Regions from separate parts of the Homo sapiens genome. Here region 2 is linked to region 1. The links come from fine-mapping of genetic effects on gene expression. Tissue or cell type: monocytes. Region 1 holds a variant in brackets; the other region holds the start of a gene. All regions are shown on one strand. Distances are from middle to middle.

Region 1 (2,753 bases):
AGAAGTCATCGCTAGTGACGTGCCGGATGCCACGGATGGCAGCGTTCTGCCTCACGAATGTCTTGAGCAGCCCGTGCACCTTCTCGGCTCTCCGGCCGGTCAGGTGGGTCAGCAGGTCCACAATGTAGGTCCCCATGGTGTGCAAGCCCCCGCCGCCCATGAGCTCATCACAGATCCAGCCATAGCTGGGGCTCAGCAGGCTGCCTGAGTAGATGCGGGCATCACAGATCATCACCGCTCCCACATAGTGTTCCGAAATCAGCTGTTTCATGCGCACGAAGGCAGGCAGGAAGCGCAGCACGTTCCCTACCAGGCTCATGAGCTGCGGGTAGTAGCGCGAGGCTGTCACCATCCGGAAGGCATCCACCGATGTTGCTGCCTTCTCGCAAACCACATTCTTCCCAATACCTAACAACAGGACACAACAGGAAATCTCAAAGTTTCAAGGGGGAATCTCCAGCATGTCCGCCTGCCCTGAGGATTTTGGACTTCTCTGCCTTACAACTGCACGAACTAATTTTTTTTTCTTTTTTGTAGAGGTGGGGTCTTGCTATGCTGCCCAGGCTAGTCTCAATCTCCTGGCCTCAAGCGATCCTCCATCTTGGCCTCCTAAGTGGGACCACAGGTGTGTACCACCACGCCTGGCTAATTTAAAATTTTTTTTTTGTAGAGATGGGGTCCTCCTCTGTTGCCTAGGCAGGGCCCAAGTGATCCTCCTGCCTTGGCCTCCCAAAGTGCTGAGATTACAGGTGTGAGCCACCATGCCTGGCCCCAATTTCTTCAAATAAATCTCTGTCTTAAACACCCTATTGGTTCTGTTTCTCTGGAGAACCCTGAATAACACAGGTGGGCTAGAGAGGTGGGCACACTTCATGGACGTGTCTCTATGTTGTCATGCATTTATTAGGTCATCAGCTTGGGGCAAGGAAATCTAACCTATTTTCTAGGGGATGGACTATTCATAACTTCTACTCTTAGTCATAACTCCAGAGAGGGCCCTAAGATTCCCTGCAGATTGTTCTCTGAAAACACTGGTCCAACAAGTTAGAGTGGCCCAAGGCTAGAACATGTTTGGCTCCGGCAGGAAGGGAAGGAAGTGAGAATACCCTTTTTGCCCTCACACCCATTCTGGGTACGCTGCAGCCAACACGCACCCAGAGGTAAACAAAGCTGGACAAAGCCCTGAGGAGAGTGCTAGAGGATAAGCAGCTGGGAACTGAAGGGATGAATGCTGCTCCATGTTTCAAGATGAAAGCTTGTGAGGATATGAGCAGCCATGAGACACTAACACCTGCAGTGTTCCTGCGAGCTTTGTGTGGTTCAAGTCGAAGGAAATCCTGTGCTAATACTTTAAATAGAAAACTTAGAAAGCCCAAAAAGCAGTATGGACTAGACACATACAGAAGTTTACAAGTCATAGTAAGCCAGAAAGGGTAAAGACACCCTGGCAAAAACCCACGAAAAAGCTCTCCAATGTGCAATAGCTTCTCGGAATAAAAGCCAAAGTCCTTACAAAGGCCCCACCCATAAGGTCTTGATACATGATCTGTGCACTCCTCCAAAATTTTCTTTTTAAAAAAATATTGAGATAGAGTCTCACTCTTGCCCAGGCTGGAGTGCAGTCGCATGATCTCGGATCACTGCAACTTC[C/T]GCCTCCTGGGTTCAAGCGGTTCTCCTGCTACAGCCTCCTGAGTAGCTGGGATTACAGGTGCCCACCACCACGCCCGGCTAACTTTTGTATTTTTAGTGGAGACAGGGTTTCACCATGTTGGCCAGGCTGGTCTCCAACTCCTGACCTCAGGTGATCCACCCGCCTTGGCCTCCCAAAGTGCTGGGATTAAGGCATGAGCTGCCATGCCTGACCACTCCAAAATTATCTTTTTGACTCTTTGCCTCCTGTGGTCTCTCGGTTGCTCATCCTGCTCTAGCCACTGAATGTGAGATGGGGGCTGCTGTGCAGAAGGACTTGGGGATTGGGGAGAGGCAATGATCACGAAATGCTGAAGGACTGAGAAGGCAGGGGTGGGTTAGGAAACGAGACTGAAAGCATTACACAGAGCCTACATGCAATGTGGAAAACTGGATACCAAGTCTTGGGCTGGACTAATTCATGTGCTTACCCTTCTAGTTGAAGCCCATCTGGGCAATGTGTGCACCTGGGCTTCTCCTCCACAGCCATCCAGGCTCCACTCTGGCACTCCACAGGTACTTCCTGGTTGGAGGGGCAGCCTTAGGCCTGGATGCCTGTGACCTGGGGCAACCGGTCACAAGAATGTGCCTTCTCCAGGTATGTGCATCTTCAGTAACCATGGTGCTCATCTTCCCTCAGGCCCCCAAACATTTTCTGAATGTTTTCAGATGAGGTAATGGTTAAGACACAGATTATTTCTGATGGCTCACTGCAGGGTGCAGCTTACCCTGATGGACCAAGATGGATTCTGTTCACACAGGCTCAGGAGGGGCCAGCTTACAGCAGAAACAATAGTAACTACAGACAATAAATCTTGCAACAAAAACTAAGAAAACTTCATAGAGATGGCCAATGTCTTGGCTGGGCATGGTGGCTCACGCCTATAATCCCAGCACTTTGGGAGGCCAAGGTGGGTGGATCACCTGAGGTTGGGAGTTTGAGACCAGCCTAACTAGCAGGAAGAAACCCCGTCTCTACTAAAAATACAAAATTCGCTGGGCGTGGTGGCACATGCCTGTAATCCCAGCTACTCGGGAGGCTGAGGCAGGAAAATCACTTGAAC
Region 2 (2,753 bases), 200 kb after region 1:
TGCAGGACATTGCCAGGCCTCTCTCCACTTCCTTCCTCAGCATACAGACTTCATGCTATCTTCCAATTCCGGGGAGTCTTAGCTATTAGGGCAGTTTCTGCTTCTCCATTTTGGGGACAAAGGCCTTGCCCAGTACAAATCTAGCCCCTTGTCCCACAGACTTCTGGATGGTATAAACCTAGTGGCAATGTAGCAACCATAGGCTAGAACCAAACCCAAGATTTGGGTCAGTGCCCTGTTAAGGGTTTTAGGATTGGTAAGGACACCACAGCTAAATCTGACATGTAAAAGGATACCCTTCCCCTGTCCCACTACGGGTGGAGGCTAAGGACCTCCTCAGATCCCACAGATTGCCTGGTGACATTGGGCACAGGGCTGGATGGTGTGCTGTTTGAGAGGACAGCATGCTCAGGAGATTTCAGTGGGAATGATCTCTAGGCTGATGTGTATTTGGGGAAGTGGGGGTGGGGAAGAGGTAGGTGCCTGCTGCCTCAAACCACCTTGTGTAAAATCTGCAATACGGCTTCTTCCATGTACCTGTGCCTGAACTGTCTGCAATAAAGAAGAATTTGTAAACTGTGGTTTCTTTCTTCCAACCTGAGGGTGCCAGGTGGGACAAGGGGATGCTGGGGGACAGTAGGGAACAATGACTGGTCATTGTAGTGGGATCATCTCCCCTGCTCTTGCAATTCCTGAGTTTTATGACCTCGAGGGTAGCCTCAGGCCTTGAGTTATTCCGACCCATTCCCAAAGGGAACCTGAGGCACCTGCCAATTCAGCATATTCTGGGGGTCTGAGGGACCTTAGCATGGGCGGCTAAGTTGACCCCGTCCCAGGACCATCGGAGTCCATGCTCTGGGAGTGGGCAGGGACCTGGCGCCTTCTGAGTCGAGTAGGGCTTTAGGTGGCCCAGTGCGTGGACGCTTACTTCAGCCCCGTGGGACTTTCCTGACCTCGCGGACACAGGGGCGGGGCCGCCGAGGGGGACTGGCTGCGGGAGGGGTTTAGGCTTCCGCCCCCAGCCCGGAACCTTTCTTCTCCGGCCCTGGCAGGTTCCGGGAGCCTCGGCTCGTGGGTGCCGGAAGTGGAGGCGGTTGGTGGGGTTGGCGGGGCTCAGCGACGCTGCGCGGGTGGCGGTTTGCGAACTGCGGGTGGACTGTGTAGTGACCGGCGTCCCGCTGTCTCGCCCCGTGGCGGGTGAGCGAGGGTGCGTGGTGCGCGGCGGCGGCGGAACGAACGCGGTGCGGGCGGGGCGCCCGCCGCAGGGCCCATGGCCTCCTGCGCGAGCATCGACATCGAGGACGCCACGCAGCACCTGCGGGACATCCTCAAGCTGGACCGGCCCGCGGGCGGTGAGCGGGGGTTGCGGGGGTGGGCCCCAGGCGAGCTGACAAAAGGGCGGCGCGCGTCTGAACCGCCATTGGGGCCCACAGCTCCCTTAGGACTAGCTCTGGATCCTCCCGGCGGGTAAGGGTGGACGGGGATTGACTGTGCCCCTCGAAGGGCGCAGACCCCTGGGTGTGACCCCTCCCTATCTTGTCCTCAGGCTGTTCTGCCTTGTCCTTCAGCGTCTCGGTTGAAGGTGAGGCGCCTTCTCTGAATCCGCTGGGGCCCTCTGGTTTCCTGGCCCCGAGGTCTCTAGTGTTCCTGGGACTGGCCTAGCTCCTCTTCCCTTTCTCCATGGTTCAGAGGCCTGGTCTGGGCTCCGTATATGGAATTCTGGGCCCAGGCTTAAGCGCGATGCTGAAGAGCTGCCGGTCCCCCTCCATAACTTGCCCTTCTCTCTGGAATAAAGACTCCAGGCCTCCCGTTCTGAAACTGATTTCCAGGAGGAAGGTGTCCAGTCTCAATTCCGTGTTCTTTCTGGGATGAAGGCAAATCACAGACCGCACCACCCTGACTGAATTATGCTACAAATATCTGCAAGCCCTAATTGGTTCCCATTCATTCATATTTCGCTTTGGCTCTTAATGATACCTCAGAACTAGTCTTGCCCCCAAAGATTCCCCAAGACACAGCTAACAGGGTTGTAATATACTGTTGTCATTGAAAGAAAGGAGTGTCTCGATACTGTGATGGGCGTGGGAAGGGTGGAGGCTGGTGAGTGCAGAGTGCAGGTCTGAGAGGGGAGACTGGGCTAGGTCTTGTAATGTGAACAGGGGCTTGGGTGTCAGGAAAGGCACCCAAGGCACCTATGGAGAAGCCACCTATTAGGAAGAGGAAATAGCACGTGTGCAGGCACTAGTTTACTGACAGGTTTAGGGATCTCTGAAGTGGCCGGTGATGATGGTGTGGGCGTACAGTGGAGAATTGTGTTTCCTCAGATCTTGTTCTTACACCTGCTGGGAGGCCCAGACTGGCTGCTTCTGGAAGCAGGCACTGGTGCTCACTAGGGGTGGATTCAACTAACCCCTACTTTCAGAAAATCCATCTGCTGCCTGAGACCACTCGGCCCTTTGTCCCAGGCCTGGAGTGTGTGCCCTCTTTACTCATGAGTTGGGCGTGGACCTCTCCTGCTGCTCAGCTGCTTTGTAGACTAGACTCCGCAGAGATTTGGTAGAGCCTGGCATGGCCAACCATGTACAGCCTGAGCCTGCTTTTTGGTTGTCCTCATGGTACCCTTCATGGAAGGGAGAGTTGTCAGCTTGTCCCTGAGCAGCTAAAGTGGCTCTGATCTGAATGAAGTGGCCTGGAGGCTTTCCTTATAACTACTTTGTTTATTGATTGGCACTTGATTCCCTTGTTTGCCAAGC

What was found. PIP is the estimated chance that this variant, and not a neighbour inherited with it, causes the effect. A credible set is the group of variants that fine-mapping cannot tell apart.
Region 2: EDC4 starts here. The variant in region 1 is the best candidate, but not a certain one, in a credible set for the expression of EDC4 in monocytes (TOPMed, PIP 0.51).

What each region holds. Positions count from the first base shown.
Region 1 is chr16:67,675,646-67,678,398 of GRCh38, forward strand. GFOD2 (Gfo/Idh/MocA-like oxidoreductase domain containing 2) reads right to left here. Exons shown (of 3, transcript NM_030819.4): 3 at 1-408. Among named protein-coding and RNA genes, the nearest start is that of C16orf86, 10 kb to the left of the region's middle. RefSeq lists enhancers at 1,421-2,377, 2,378-2,753. The variant C/T (reference allele first, on the strand shown) is at 1,651.
Region 2 is chr16:67,871,992-67,874,744 of GRCh38, forward strand. EDC4 (enhancer of mRNA decapping 4) reads left to right here and starts at 1,061. Exons shown (of 29, transcript NM_014329.5): 1 at 1,061-1,352. The coding sequence starts at 1,271. It overlaps NUTF2 (nuclear transport factor 2), which reads left to right. Exons shown (of 5, transcript NM_005796.3): 5 at 1-576. RefSeq lists a silencer at 1,174-1,383 and an enhancer at 1,277-1,777.